2 separate regions of the Homo sapiens genome follow, and region 2 is linked to region 1. Evidence: fine-mapped expression QTL. Tissue or cell type: thyroid. Region 1 holds a variant in brackets; the other region holds the start of a gene. All regions are shown on one strand. Distances are between the middles of the regions.

Region 1 (8,188 bases):
TCATTAAGAAAGTAAACTGAAGAAAAAGGTAAAGAAACCTTTAAAAGACAAACAGTTTTATTTTCCTAATATGCTTGTTTGCTTAATTCAGAAAAGCATTCATCCCTCAGTATTAGTATTAGTATCAGTACTGAATTCTAGCTTTCTGTTAGTCACTTGGTTGGACTCAAAGATGAATGAGGGAGTCAAGCACAATGACACATGCCTATAGTCCCAGCTACTTCGGAGGCTGAGGCGGGAGGATTGCCTGAGTCCAGGAGTTTGAGACCAGCCTGGACAACATAGGAAAACCCCATCTGAAAACACACAAAAATTAAAAATTAAAAAAAAAAAGATGAGTAAGATTCAGTAAGTTCCTAACCACAAATATTTAGAATTTAGTAGAGGAAATAAGACATGCAACTAAAAGCTAAAATATATAGATTGAAAAACATCGTGCCTTTAAAGAGTATTATTCTTTTATTATTATTAATTTTGAAATAAACTATTTATTGATATTTATAGTAGGCAAGGAAAGACTTAGTAAAAGGAATATTGAAGGAAAGATAGGATTTTAAGTCATAGAAATGCAGTTGACTTGGACTTAACCGTGAGAGGAAAATCATTAATCAGAAAAGAGGAACATTACTTTTGGAGAAGAGTAAATTTTACGGCTTAGCTAGTTTTGTTTTTGTTTTTTTTTTCTGTAAAGGGCCAGATACAAAATATTTTAGGCTTTAAGGACCACAGTCTCTGTTGAGGTCTTGAAGGTCACTGAATTCTGTTGTGTAATATGATGCCTTCATTGACAGTAAGTAAAAAAATAGGGATAGGCATATTTACCAATAAACATGATTTACAGACATAGAAATGTGAATTTCACATCATTTTCATGTCACAAATATTAGTTTTCTTTTACTTTTCCCCCGCTATTTATCATTGTAAAAACCATTCTTAGCTGGGAGTCCTTACAAAAACTGGAAGCAAGCCACAGTCTTCCAGTGACGGAGCTAGAGTGTTCTCTCTAACAAGTAACCCCTTTGTACAATGTAACTTCCTCTTAGGCCAATACTAAAATCACAGAACAGCAATACATTACAGATTTTTGAAAGAGATAATTATTTATCACTTACATTCAAGTAACAAATTCTTGTAATTTGACAAATCTTGAACATGCCTCCTCAACTTGCCTCAGTTTGTCTTTCTGTTTGGGGGAGGATTAAAGTTCACAAAAGTTGAACTTCAATGAAGTTAATTATCAGTTAAGGTAGACTGAGGAGGCAGAGACATGTAACAGAAAAGCCAATCCAGATATCATTTTTATTTATTTGGCTTTAGAAAGTGTTTTTCTACTTACATGTGAGTATGGGTGTGTCTGATATTCTGGGAATTTACTTCAAACAAAGGAATGAAGCCACGCAATGGCGATCTGACTCAGCTGGAGTTGGGAATCCATCTAGTTTCCCCATCTTGCCTCCCGTCTTGCTCTTCTCCATGGTCTGTTTTTACGCTGTGTTTAGATGCCTCGTCTTCTCAGATCAATCTAAATGCTCACCCACATAAAATCACCTTTCCTGAAATTGTATTTGCAGAGCAGATGGAGTCCTGTCCATTTTTGCGTGTGTGTTTTTTTTAAGTCTTTTGAGATAGAACTCTAACAAAGTGTGCTCTGCTTTCAAACAAGGCAGTAATTGAGCAGCATTAAGTGATAATATTGAACAACATCATGGATAAACCACAATGAGAGTTGCTGCAATTGTTATGGAAATGTAGGCATTTGTTTAGTCTTCAATTTTTTTTTTTAACAGAAAAGGCAACCTCTGCATTCACTGCTTACCTGAGATTTATGGATGAATGAAAAGATAGGTCCCTTGGAGAGTTCAAACTCTTCTGCAGATATTGTGTAACAGATTGCAAAATAGGTCTTCCTATCAGAATATGTATACCTTAGTGACAGCTATGAGTTTGGAACACGAATTATCTATCTGTGGTAGGTGTTGTCGTTGTTGCTATTATCATCCCCATTTGACAGTTGAGAAAATGGAGTTGCAGAAAGGTTAAGCAGTTTCTCAGTGTCACACAGCTAGTAAGTGGCGGTGCCAACATAGAAGTCCACTTCCTCAAGTGTTCATGCTTTTAAAAATGGAAACAAAACTCTAACAACCGTCAAACAGCAACGATTGTCAGAACCTAGAAAAGGCCTCTTAAATTTGCAGTGTTAACCAAGCCTGATGTGGTTCCCTAGATCCCCTGGCTGCCACCGCTCTGTGAAGCAAAGGAAAAACTAATTCCTTGCTAGCATAACACTTCTATTGAGCATTCCTGGACACAACTCCCCCAGGTTCTGAAGAGCCTAGGGTTGCTATTTGTTTAGTTCCCCATGGCTGCTTTTCACATTTTCTGGATCTTTCTCTTGATTCTAGCATTATAAGTCTACCTCTTCCCTGATCACTCACTTTTCTACCTCCTGGAGAGCACTGACCACGGGATCACCTCACCATTTTATTTAACCCATTAGGACTCAATGCCAGGCAAAACCTATACCACAGCCTGCATTGTATTCACCATCTCAGGCTCGAGCTCTGATTCCTGGGGTTGAGGAAAGGAAGACTTTCCAACCCCAATTTCTGCCATCCATGTTGATTAGTCAGAGGGCTAATCAACTGTGAACTCATGTTCTTTGGAACTAGGCAGCACAGGAAAAATAATCATTAAAGGTTTGGTAAATAAAAGACTGAATGGATGCTTAGCTACCTGTCATTATCCTGTCTCGCTTTTCGTCAGCATGCAATCCCAATCCTCAGCTGTTAAGATGTAGACAAAGAGTTCTGATGAAAGGGATTTATTTGTACTATTCCAACAGAGTCTGAAAACTAGCAGGAGCATTTCCATAGGTCGTCTCTCAACAATCCTGTCTGTAAATATTTGAGTCACTTACAGGCATTGTTGAGCATAGTTCTGGCCCAGCAAATCTTCCTCCTTTGTATCCCTGATCAAGTAAAAACTTAGTCAGGATATACTTGGGTGACCTTCACACTGTACCTCCTCCAGAGGTACAGAGGTGGTGACGTAATCACTGCCACAGCTGACTGGCTATGGCTTGCTTGATAAGA[C/T]GCCAGGGGCTACCTATGTAGATTCCCAGGGAGGAACTGTAGGAACAAACCGGTGTCAATGGTTAACCCAGGTTCTTGGTGTCTGGAGCTTTTCTTTCCTTTATTATTAACTAAAGAGCATTCTCTACCATTGCCCAGCTGAAAGCACCTAGCTCATAGATTCTCTGTGGGGAGAGTGAATAAAGGTAAGTGCTATTATTGCTATGGATACAATGTCATTCAGCCTATGTTTTGCTCTTGCTGGCATCTGTGTTTGGGGAGCAGCAACACTCTGTTTCCAGCAAACGTAAATATTAATGATCAATTAAATGCAATTAAGATAATTTAATTTTTTATCCAAGTGCTTTAAGTAGGAATCAAACAGTGTGTCATATTCCTTAAGTTATTTTGAAGCTTTGGTTAAAAGTAGTCTCACATTGGTGTTTACAGAGTCTGTTAAACAGCCCTTGCCTGCTATTATATTTGTAAATGTCTAAAAGTGGCTTTATTATATTCATACCACATGGAGTATTCTGCAATGTCTTTCAAAACCAGATTTTTGCATCCTGTATGCACTTATGAACATATAATTGCAAATATTGAAAAATATGTATTTTATACCCCCCTCTTAAAAAGCTCAGAGAAAATACACGTTAACTTTTTTTTATAGTTGTCTATAATCATTGAAAGGAAATAAGAGATCTATTTTTTCTAGATTTATTTTAACATAAATTGAAAGTGAAGAATTTTCTCCTTTTGTTTTCACCTTAATCCCTCTAAAGCTTTTTTTTTTTTCTTATCATTTAAAAATCTTAAAATTTTGTTTTGAGTATTTAGTCAGAAAAGTGTGAGCTTGTAAAACTTTGCTCTCTGGATGCCACGAATTCTCTGACATATATAATTGAACAGTTTTCCTTGTTGGTATATTTAGGTAGTAAACAATAACATTTCTATAAGCCAGATGAATTTTGATCATGTGTATTACATGGACTGAATGGTCTTTAGAAAAAGAGTATTGGAGTATTTCTGCTAAATATTACTCTTATGGCTAGTAAGAGCCAGATCCTGAAGAAGAAAAAAATGTATGAATGCACCTTTGTTACTTTAGTATGGGAAATGTAGACTAGCCACTCTTTATGTCAGATTTTAACCAATAAAGGAACATGAAGTACCCAAACCACAGCTGTTTTGCAGAATACATTTAAGGAATTCCTGAAATTCAGCCAAAAAGAATTTAAAAGTGAACAAGGTCCAGAGTTCAATTCAAATCAAAAGAGAGAGAAAGAGAAAGAGAGCCTGAGTAACTTAGAGATGTAATCCTGCTTGTTTATTTTTAGAACACGATAATTGTGATAAATCTAAGATTATTAGTCTCATATACAACAAGACTGACAACCTTTGAAACTGCAAGAAAAGACTGCTTTGGGAGAGGAATTCAATATTCTATTTTAATGCATTTTTCTCAACAAGAATTTCAGCATGAGAGAGAACAAGAGTCTTCAAGGATATTGAAAAATATATGTTTCTTCTATTATATAGATTAGTGGTGAGTACAAGCTAAGACCTGGATATAAATTAATTGAAAATTAGAAATGGAAAAAAAGTATAGTTTGAGGCAAAATATATAAAGGGCATTGAAAGTAAATATTTGGCACCGAAATAATACAGGTATTTTCTTTGTTAAATTAGTAAAACCTACCACTTGTCCTCATACAAGAACTTGAGTTCCAGCATAAGAAGATCATTGGGAGCCATCTTCAAAGCTACCTCCCACCATTTTCCATTTATAAATGGAACTGTCAAAGAAGTCTTCACTAAGGGGGTGATATTTAGCCAAAGACCTGGAGGTGGCAAGGAAGTGAGCAACGTAGAATCCTTGGAGAAGAGCAGTTCAGGCAGATGGAACAGCCCTAAGGCTGAGGTGTGCCTGGCGAGTTAACAAAACAGCAAAGAGGCCAGTGTGGCTGAAGCAAAATTGCAGGAGTGGGAGTAGCAGGGAATACATGAGGTCCTGTAGATGTGCCATAATATTTACCAAGACAGATACGATTCTGCAAGCTACAAGTGTCAGAGAAGGTTTTTGAGATGTTAGAAAAGACCATGGGAAGCGTAGATTTAGATAAGTGGAGAGACAGTGAGGAGTATTGCGGATGACAGGCTGATGATACAAGTGAACAAAATATAGATGTGAGAATGAGCAGAATTAGCATAAGCATGAGAGCAAATGAAGTTAGGCTCCTCCAGTGTACCCAATGGAGTAAATAAAAAGGTTTCTGAACATCAAGGCTGTGCTGAGGCTAACAATATGCTCACCAACATGAAACTTGTAAGGGAAACACAAATCTCAACACAGAAGCCAGGCCCTCTGTAGCTCAAACCAGATGTTGTCAAGAGACAGGAAATTAAGAAATCTAAGTAAAAGTAGATTTCATGGACAGTAAACAGAATTAGAAGTCTTTCTCCAAATGCCTCTTTCCTGGTTAGGCTGTGTTTTTTTTTTTTGTTTGTTTGTTTTTTCTTGCATTTTAGTGAGTCCATCCATCAGCTTTGGCATCTCCAAATGGCCCCTTTGCTGGAAACCATGGTAATAAGGGCTCATCTTCTGAGATGTCTATGGGAAATGAAAGTAAACTCAAATAGCTGGTTCTTGGTTAAATTTTTCAGGCCCAAGGGCCCAGATTCAGAAAAAAAAAAAAGATAGTTTATCTGAAATGCATTGCATGAAGAATGCTTTCCTATACAAAGACAGTTACATTTTGCTTTCTTAGCTGGTTAGCTTCTGCAGACTGGGAGGAGAACTATTTTTATCATCATGCTTTAGGGCCTATGGACCCTAGGCTTTGTAGTTATTTCACTCTGTTAAACACAAGGGGTGGATGACTTTATTTTTTTGTATAGCTGCTTTTAAATGAAAAAGATAGGATCAGATTTTTTTCCTCACCTTGTTCCAGAAAGTTCTACTCTGAAATCAAGGATCTGGATGCAAAACATAACATTCTAATAGAGGCTTCTCACTATTAAATGCAACTTTTCCCAGTTGCCATGGCTCCACATTCTCCCCCTCCTAAAACTAGATCTGAAACTGCTGACAGGTGTATAAGAAAATTTTAAAAAGTCAATCATCTGGGGAAAAAACAGTCCCAAATTAGATTTATCCAACAACTCCGCATAAAAAAAAGGTGATTTTTACCTTAACATGTTCCAAAAAGATCACCTCCATTCCTAATTTTATTTTCCTTATATGAAAATAGCTTTAGAGACTCCAAATGGTTACATGGCTTCAGATTGTATTTTGTAAGATTTGCTCTCCTTTTAACTGAGAAACAAATATTCAGTTATCTTTTTTATTTTAAGAAAAATGTGTGTTCTAGCAAACATGACCAAAAACACTCTTGTTTTGGTAAATTTTAATTTTTTGTTGTATCCCATTTTAAATCAGAGGCATGTTCTCATGCAATCAATAAACATTTATTAAGTACCACTGTACCGGACAGTCTGGGGACAAAGATAACAAAGATCTGGTCCCTGCCCCCAGCCTGGCAGAAAAAGGCATGTCTGTAAATAATTAAGAGCCATGCAATGGTCCAGCACCATCATAACATAACGTACAATTAGCACACCAACCAATCACACTTTTTTCCAGGAAGGCAAGAGGGATGATAGCCAAGTTTGAGGCAGGTTAATATTGTCCTGCGTGTGCTTGTGGAATTCAGAACTTTTAGACACTGAAATATCATTTTCACTATGAACTCTATTACACGATTTTCCACTGTCAGAAACTCACTCTTAAGAGAACTCAGACAGTTCTCTTAAAATGGTCTTTTTTTCTACTACCGTTTGGTTATTAGTCAAGGATCTCTAGAGAAGCAGAAGAAACAGGATACAGGAGAGCAAGAGGGAGAAAAACACAGAGAGATCTTAAGGAATTGGCTCAAGCGATTATGGTGGCTGGCAAGTATGAAATCTGTAGGGCGGGCTGGTAGAAATTCTAGTAAGAGTTGACATTGCAGTATTGAGTTCAAATCTGCAGAGTATGCCAGAATAGGAAACTTGGATGGCATTTGTATGTTACATTTTTGAAGCAGAACTCCTTTCCCAGGAAATCTTGGCTTTTGCTCTTAAGGGTTGCAACTGATTAGATAAGGCCCACCTACATTATGGAGGATAATAATCTGCTTTTCTCAAAGTCTACAGATGAGAAATGTTCCTCACATCTAATATGTATCTTCCTAGCAATATCCAGACAGGTGTTTGATCAAACAACTGGGTACCATAGCCTAGCCAAGTTGACATATAAAATTAAACATCACAATAACAGAATCCAACTTCATCCTGATTGTCTTTTGCCATCCAGTTATTAGACATTATATGTTTCAAGCTTCCATTTCTCTAAAAGAAATTAAGAATCATACTTTAGTAATCATATAAATATTAAATTTCATAAAATGGATCTGCCTAAAAATACCATCATTTGCATATAGAAGCATCCATTAATTTAGTACAGCATTTTTATTTTATTATTTATTTTTATGTTTTTAGATGGAGTCTCACTCTATTGCCTAGGCTAGAGGGCAGTGGCATGATCTCGGCCCACTGCAACCTCCGCCTCCCAGGTTCAAGCAATTCTCTTGCCTCCGCTTCCCAAGTAGCTGGGATTACAGGCACCCACCACCATGCCTGGCTATTTTTTGTATTTTTAGTAGAGATGGGGTTTCACCATGTTGGCCAGGCTGGTCTCGAACTCCTAGCCTCAAGTAATCCACCCACTTCGGCCTCCCAAAGTGCTGGGATTACAGGCGTGAGCAACCACATCTGGCAGTACAGCATTGTTAATGCTATAGCTTTTTTGTAATGCAACTTGGTTAAAGAGAAAAAGATTTTTTTAAATTGAGGTAAAGAGTAAGTTATTTCTGAGACACTGACAGTGACAGTCCAACCTTCTAATGACATTGCTTCCTCTTCCATTAAAATCACTATCCATATCATATATTTTGGCTGTTACATAATTTCCTCCATGTTTTCATGTAGTTCATATGTATGAGTCCTACCTCTGAATAACTGTGTTTACAGTAGTAGCAACATACCAAGATCTCTGAGAAACCATGTGATTAACATCG
Region 2 (8,188 bases), 93 kb after region 1:
TACCTGATCTAAGGAACTGCCATCCGTGGTTATAGAGGGTAAACCGAGGCTGTAAACTCATTACCTTTGGGAGACCTAATGTATCCCAGAAAACACAGATGAAATGATCATTGTAATCACTGAATCAAGAAACATAGTAATGTAGGGTCTGGCCCTAAAATGAATATGGTATTTTCAGAGTGTAATTGTCTCACTCATGTGAGATAAATGAAGTCTTCCAGAGCATGACAGAATAGGTAATTTACTAAATAATAACATGGAGGCTCTGGAAGTGTGAGCTTCTTAAAGAACAGCCCCACTTATTGATTTTGGTTTTAACATATTTGATGGAAAATAAAGGTCATAATAATAAACGGATAAAGTAAGCACTGAAATATTTTCTCAATACATCAGTACATGATTTTATGTGTACATATAAACATATGGATAGTTGCAAACACGCGGGTATCTCACTTACTCAGAAGTTTTCCTCAGCTATTTATAACAGCAAATACAAAGACTAAGCCATTTAAATGCTCTGAGAAGCAAAATAGATGCCATAAATCCAAATCCTGAAGCTTTTTTACCCAAAAAGGAGGTTGACCAAGCGAAGGTAACTCCAAATTCAGCATCTGCTCATACTATTTCAAAAATGCATCTTTAGATATGTTAAATCATATTTGCTTGTACATTACTTTAGCAACCTTGGTTACATAATTTATCAGCCCAGCACAGATTAGAATCAACAAATTAGGCAGAGCATGGTGACAGTCTGACAGATTCAAGGCACATTATCAGAAGCAAAAATGAGAACGGAAGGCTCACATTGATGGAGAAGGGAAAACAAGCAGAAGGGCTTAAATAAGCTTAGTCTAGGGTCATTTAATGCAGGAGAAAAGGCTCTACTGTAACCTGATAGGCCTACTGTATTGCAGGTAAAAAATGAAATAGCTTATGTTTATTATAATCATATTGAGTAATCATCAAAAGTTATACTAAAACATACTGTTCCTTTCATTCATTTCCATGTAACTGACATTTATTCTTAGAAACAACTTATAATTCATATGCTTGATTACCTGTATATAGAAAGGTCTGGGGCATAGCAGGCATTTAAGAAATTAACTGAATGAGGAGCCACTCCTATCTTCTGACGTGTTCTCAGCATCCTTAATACCACTACACATAGTAATATGTCATATGTATTAAATCTTCCATTACAAAGTCTTACCCTGCTTCATTCCATTCTTCAAAATCTAAGATTATCGTTTTATTTGTTGCTTGATCCATTTTAGTGCATAATCATAAGCTGCCTTATATTGTTGTTTAATCATTTAAATGTTTCACTTCTGCCTTGTTCATCTTCTCAGTTAGACATTTTGAACTCTTAAGAAGAGGAATTACTCCCGCTAGGACACTTCTGTCTTTCATCTCACCTAGCATATAGCCAAAGTACAACGTAGTTATTTCAACAAATACGTTCACTGAATTTAAAAATATGAAGATTAAATATTATCAATGCAGTAAGTGAAACTAAAGGCCAAAACTGTTTTCCAATAAATAAGATTACATACAGTGCCTTAAAATACCACAGTAAGTGGCTTGTTCTCATAGCAGCAGATTGCAAACTCAGCCTGTCTACATTTCCGGGCAATCTGACAATGATTTATTTACTATTTATTGCTAATGATGATTACTTTGAAGATTAGAAAGTGGTTTTTAATATCCAGTGGATACAAATGCCAGGAGCGTTTGATGTTTTACCATTGTGAATTTGAACTGCATATACATGGTTAATGTAAGTCTGAAAGTATGTCTAATTGTTGGGGATCTTTATATAAATGCAAAGGAAAGATCTGTGCTTCTAGTGAAACAATCACCTTCTGCGTCACACAGCTATTCACAATCTGACTGCAGATCCAGATTGTGACTAATATTTGGCTCTAATATTATAGGTGGTTACCGTGGAGAGAATCAGTAAGAGCATAATTGTCATTTCCTTGGAAAAATTTAATCCACAGATGGATCCCAACACCCAATTGCATTCGTGTCCAAGACTAATGGGGATTTTTGCTAAATAAGGCCTGATTCAGCCAAAAAAGATAGACTCTGAATACAGAAATCTGCATCACGCATCACTTCAAAAGATGTATTAAATCAAACACTGAAAGCATTGGCACACAGAATTTTCCTAATAGGGACATGATGAAAAGTCATTTATTAATTAAAATGCATTTATATTTTCTTTTTTTAAAATGAAGCAATGGGGGTATTCTACGCTACCATACATTTACAAAATTTCATTTGCAAAATTTCATCCTTCATACTTCCTTATTTAGCTAATTAAGGTAATGATTCTACTTAGATTGGAAAGTTCTAATTAAAATCATTAATTTTTCCCGAACCTTCTCCTTCAAGATCTAAGCTTTGCTGCACATCCTTCAGTCTTTGGGAGGAGAGAATGTTGGGGGATGTGCTGCTGATAATTGATGAGAGAGAGCAGGATACATTTATTATGACCTTCCTCCCGCTGCCCAGCTAAATTTATACAGCCAACCATAATCTAATAACTCTGTGTTCCTTTCTTTAAAGATTTTCCTATCATATGAAACTATTTCGGCCTGTGGTGTATTCTTTCTAATTAGAGTAGAATACTAAAGCAAAACCATTTCAATCCAAGTTGCATAAAAATGCCATCCCTTTCCGAGTGACTGGTTTTCAAAGCGAGCTCATTACCTGGAAAAACAACAACAACAAAAGTGTTGCCTCTCTGAATTCACGTGGTTTGGAAAATTCTTAGCCATCTACAGATGCACCAACTGAATCATAATAAAGAAGAGAAAATCTATAAATGATTAATTTCCTTTTTCTATTTAGGCTTAACATGTTTTAAGGGATAATTAAACTTTTGGCCTGTTTCTTAGAAGTCCAGGAGGAAGCATATTTCAGAAGAAGCTTATTGAACTGAGCGGTGAACTCATTCATTATCCTTTGGTTAATACAGAGTGAACTTGTCTACCCTCAGGTTCATTTAGCTTTAGGCTACAGCCTAGATTCTTAGACATCCGTCTATTTTACAGTATTAATTCAAGCTGTTTATAAATAACACATGACTAAATAGATGTTAAAGAAGACCTCCCTTGGGGCAGGCATTATTCCCACGTGCATGGCAACAGAGTTCGTAACAGGGCTTGGTGAACAGTATAATCTCAACACATTAACTGGGACCACATCGCCATTTGGCTATCAGAGCAGCCACACCGAGTGCATCATCTCTTGCACACCCTTTTAATTTAAGTACCTTGCTCAGTGCTAAGAAAAAAGGCACACTTGTTAAGGCAGGAGTAAGTGCGGATCTGCGAAACCTAAGCAAGCATATTTCACCAGCACCTCCTAGGGGCCACGTGTGGATATGAGGATGGGAGGTGGGGACTCGCACAGAACCTTTCCTTGAATTGTCAGTTTCACCTCTCCTACACACAAAAATCCACCCCGACTGCGCCGTCCACAATACCAGCTAGTTTGCTGAATTAGTTCAGCGACTCAAGGAGGCCTTACGAGGTTTAAATAAACTGCACAAAAGACACATTTGATCGCTCGAGAAAATAAACATTTAAAAAACTCAGTGGAAAGAAAGACTCCTAAAATATATCCTGTCCTTTAGGAGCAAAGCTTCGTTAGGACACCGAAGTACTCAGAAATAATAGGCACTTACTCTTCGGTTTACACACACACACACACACACACACACGGATTAGTTTATAAAGTTCCAGGATCCAGACCCGGTTAACACTGAAGTTGCTTTTTAGGGGTCTGCGCGCTCTCGCCTGGCTGCTGGGAAGGAGGGCTGGGAGGCGCTGAAGCGAGGGCAGATCTGAGTGTCTGTAGGAGTTGCTATTCCAAAAAAAATCATTACTCTCTAATTGTTCTGATTTTAGATCAGCAAAGCGTGCCGGGCGGTGGTGGAGAGACTGAGGGCGGACAAGGCGAGAGGGAACGAGCCGTCCACCCTTCGGAGAAGCCTAGGCGCCTTGTAAGTAATTCGCGAACAGTCGGGAGAACAAACAGCCAAGCGGCGCTGCAGTGGCCGCACTTGCGCGCGTCTCAATCCTGGGGGCTCTGCGCGCCCGCCCCAGTCCCTCGCCCCATTGACTCAGTGGCTTCTCCGGGCGCTGCAGCCTCCGCGGGGGGCTTCGAAGGGCCGAGGGGCTCCGGCAGAGAGGGAGTGGAGAGGGAGACGCGCCGGGACCGACGAACAATCCTGCCCCTGCGGCAAAGGTCTCTACCCGGCGCTGGCACCTCGCAGGCCCCTCGAGGAGCACGCAGGGCAAGCGGCCCAAGAGCGGGGGAACCGGGAAGTGTGTGGGGCTCCAGACGGAGTAGGAAGCTTTGCCCAAGGCCAGGCTGCAATCAGGCAGCCGCAACAGCCGGGCGCGGAGCTTCCCACCTGCTGCTGTCCCAGCTGGGCCGCAACTTCCTCCTCCCCGGCCCGGGCCCGACTCCCCGGCCGGGCTCCGAGGGTGGAGGGGGACGAGGCGGCGGCAGGTTCCCTCCGCTGGCAACGCCTCGCAGCATCCTCCCCTCCCCGCCGCGGTTCCCGGGGCCGGCCGCGCGGCCAGGCGCGCTGCGATTGGCCGGCAGCGGCCGGGGGCGGGGCCAGGAGAGCCGGTGTCGCACGGACCGCCTCAAAAGAGCCCAGGATATTGCAGAGCGCACTGGAGCCCTGGCCAGCGCGCAGCCTTCCCGGCGCCGGCGGGCTGGGTCTTGGGAATTCTGGTTTGCTTTGGCTCACTCGCTTTTTACAAACCACTGGATCTTACATGCCTCTGTACCCCCCACTTCCACTCCATGTCCCCATGCTCCTGCGCCAGCAACAGGTAAGGGCTGCTGTGTTTTCTTCCTTTTCGCTCGCTGCCGGTGTGTCCTGGGGAATGGACTCTGGCCGCCGTCCCCTACCCTACCCTGCCCCGCTGCTCCAGAGGTGCCCAGCTGTCACACTGCTGTAGCGCTCACCCACACTCCGGAGTCCCAGATCATGCCTATATAGTTTGTGTGCGCACCAGAACATCCCCAGAGCTAAAAATACTGAGACATGCTTGGAACAGTTGAGCAATAGAAACAGATTTCTCTGCAGCATCTGTTTGTGCTCATAACTTCCAATGCACCAGCTGTAGCGAGATACTGGGTTTGGAGGCAAGGGCGAGAGCGTCTGTGTTCGGTTCTCACTCTAAGTGGGGAAAAAAAGAAAGAAAACGTGGTTGCGGGTTTGGGGGTGCGTCTTGAGCCCTGGTCTTAAACCTTGGCAAAGCTTGGGACTCAGCACTATTCTTGATCCTTGGCTTTTTTTTTTTTTCGTCATTGCTTCAAGTATAGCTGTGAGTTTCAAACAGAGTGAGTGTCTCAAAGTTGCCTTCCTGAAAGAAGAGCGGGAGCCCGAGTTGGATTTGAGCCTGAGGATCGCAAAACTTTCACATTACATATCACTCTCCCCTAACCAATTTGTTATTTTCAGTAATAATGGTATTAATACCTGGCTTGAAGACAGTGTGGTTTTAGGAAAGCAAAATAGTCAAAACGACTTGATTCTGCAAAAAGATTGCATCATAGCGTGGATTCATCATGACAATTGGAAAAAAAATAGGGATAGGGAATGGGCAGTTTAATGTCTGTGTCTGGGTAAGGATATCATAGGATGATCACTAGGATAAAAGGCTGTGAATTCCGACGATTTTCATAAATTCAGATTTTACCTGTTAGGAAATAAGGTGTTATTTGAAAACCTCGGATATGCAAAGAAACCATATTGCGTTTTATCATTTGTTTTCTTTTCACATTAATAATCAATAGGCTGCCAGATTTCCTCTCGCCAACCAATGTTGTGTGTCTGCTGTACATTATCTGTACACTTGTTAGCGTTTTCCTGCTCACTTCCAAATGTTTCATTTCTATTTGCCATTATCTGGAAAAATCCTGGTGCTCAGAAGGGGTAAGAGATGTTAATTGAAGCATGGTGGAAAGGGTGAGGATAAGGTCAAGGCCATTTTACTTAGCTTCCTCCTCTCTCATATTTTAATGACACTTTATTTTTTAATGTTCTTGGTCTCCATAAGAAATATTTGATCTAAACTCATGTGAATTTTGCTTTTAAAAAAAATAAAAGAACACAGTCTTTCTACATCCTTTGGATTCCTGAGTTGTAGAATCTCTGGTTAGCTGTAGCGTCCTTGTATGACTTTTGCGTAGCCTGAAAGATTGAAAACAGCTACCTGCACAGATTAAGTGTTTCAGATTTTTTTAAGTGTATATTTTTATTTACCAAACATGTCTGTTTTTCAGCGTATGCAAATGCTGAGCAGTGCTACAAGCCAAGTGTCGTTGAGTATAAATGTTAGACAGGGGGCTCACACGTAGATAGATGGGTATCCCCCTCCCCTCCCCACTTCCCCCTCCTCCTCCCTCATGTTTATTGAGCTTCTAAGAGGCTGCTTTCCTAGCAGTTGTGCTCACATAGCAACATGTGCCCAGAGCACACTCAGGCTGTTCTATATGGCGTCAGCTGGGGAATAGCTGCTCTAAACACTCATTAGCAGACCTCTCTCTCAGCCCAGTACGTTTTCTTTTGCTATCTTTATTTCCTATCCTTAGAAACTTTCTTATTTATTGCACACCATGACCATATTACAGGACACATTTACTCTCATTTGATTTTTTTTTTTAGTTATTTATAAGCCATATTGGAAGTATTACCTATATAGTCAAAGCAATTTAGATCCCCCATTTGTACCATGTGATCTCCTTGACCTTACATTTATCCATAGCTCTTTCTCCTTTAACATCTACCTAAGTTTAAAACGCTGAACTATTTTTTTCCATTGCTTATGCTTAATTTTGGCTCAGCCTATAAATAGTCTTAACATGAACAGCACCACATGTAACCTCTCAATTTCCCAAAAATACTTTCTACATCATGGGTTATGGCCTGGATAAAAATGATTATTTGTGTCCATGAAATTTACATCTAGACCCTTAAATATTTTGGCTGGAAGGGAGATTTACACATTGTTCATCAAATCAAATTTCAATTCTCTGGATTTGTATCACTTAGTGTTCTCATCTACTCCTCATTGATTGCATCTCAAACATTATTTTGAATATATGCTTGAAATAAAGTTGCATGTAAGCCCTGTTTTTTTAATGATAGCTTTTCTCAGCTGCTCACGAATTGGTAATTGCTAGTGAGAGGACCGGGCAAGGAAGTTTTCTGCTTGCTTAAAGTCGCTCAGGCATGTGGGCAGGTTAACAGTAAAAGCAATTTTTACCATGAAATATTAAGACCGTTACCCCATCAAACCTTGACAGGTTCTAGACTTTAGCTATGTAATCAGCTCCACAAAAAGTCTGCATACATATATGTGTGTGCACCTGCATACACACATAAATCTGTTTGGGGGCATATCTATTTAAAGTGGCAAAAGTTTTCTTTTTGCCAAAAAAAAAAAAAAAAAAAAAAAAAGCCCAAAACTCCTCTTTTTCTCTTTCCAGGAAGAAATGGTAAAATTTCTAAATGATGCTCCACATGTGGAACAAATTCTGTTATTAGCAATGGAAATAAGACAATAATAGTCTCTCAATACAGGCTACTTTCAAGATTCTAAATGTGGAAAGCTATTCATAGGAAGCTGGTATTGTGTGATTTGTGGAATTCAAACAAATGTCCTGGGGTCAAGATTTTTGGAAAGTCATAATTCAGTCTTTAGATTTCATATGGTTGTTATGTTTTAATCTGGAAGGAGTACAGAAATAAGTCAGAAGAAATTTGAGACTGTCTACTCATGGCCCCTAATGGTAACTCACATGGAAGGATTGTTTTGAATCATGAAAAGGGAATTTCTTGGTGTCAGCTTATAATACAAAGTTCTGAAGTCAATCAGAACTCAAAAATACAAAGCATTCATTGAATGAAGTTCTTCTCCTTTTTTTGAAACGTATACCTGCGTTTGGTGTTGTTGCTGTCTCTGTCTGTTTAGTAATGTGAGAAAACTAAGATGAAATAATTGCTTAAAAAATGCTGTCCATGTACAGGATCTAGAACTTCGAGGGGCAGGATTCTTGTTTCTTTGGTCCAAGTGCAAACTTCACAGGGAAGCAGACAAAACATTGAAGCAGGTGGAAGGTTAGGAAAGCACAGTAACTTCTTTTTATAAAGTAA

The links. PIP is the estimated chance that this variant, and not a neighbour inherited with it, causes the effect.
Region 2: KCNJ2-AS1 starts here. The variant in region 1 is fine-mapped to the expression of KCNJ2-AS1 in thyroid (GTEx, PIP 0.99).

The regions. Positions count from the first base shown.
Region 1 is chr17:70,072,114-70,080,301 of GRCh38, forward strand. It overlaps KCNJ16 (potassium inwardly rectifying channel subfamily J member 16), which reads left to right and starts at 3,112. Exons shown (of 4, transcript NM_170741.4): 1 at 3,112-3,277. LOC105371881 (a long non-coding RNA gene) reads right to left here and starts at 2,694. Exons shown (of 3, transcript XR_934952.3): 1 at 1,113-2,694. The variant C/T (reference allele first, on the strand shown) is at 3,093.
Region 2 is chr17:70,164,846-70,173,033 of GRCh38, forward strand. It overlaps KCNJ2-AS1 (KCNJ2 antisense RNA 1), which reads right to left and starts at 4,557. Exons shown (of 1, transcript NR_036534.1): 1 at 2,116-4,557. It overlaps KCNJ2 (potassium inwardly rectifying channel subfamily J member 2), which reads left to right and starts at 4,687. Exons shown (of 2, transcript NM_000891.3): 1 at 4,687-4,856. RefSeq lists a silencer at 4,283-4,742.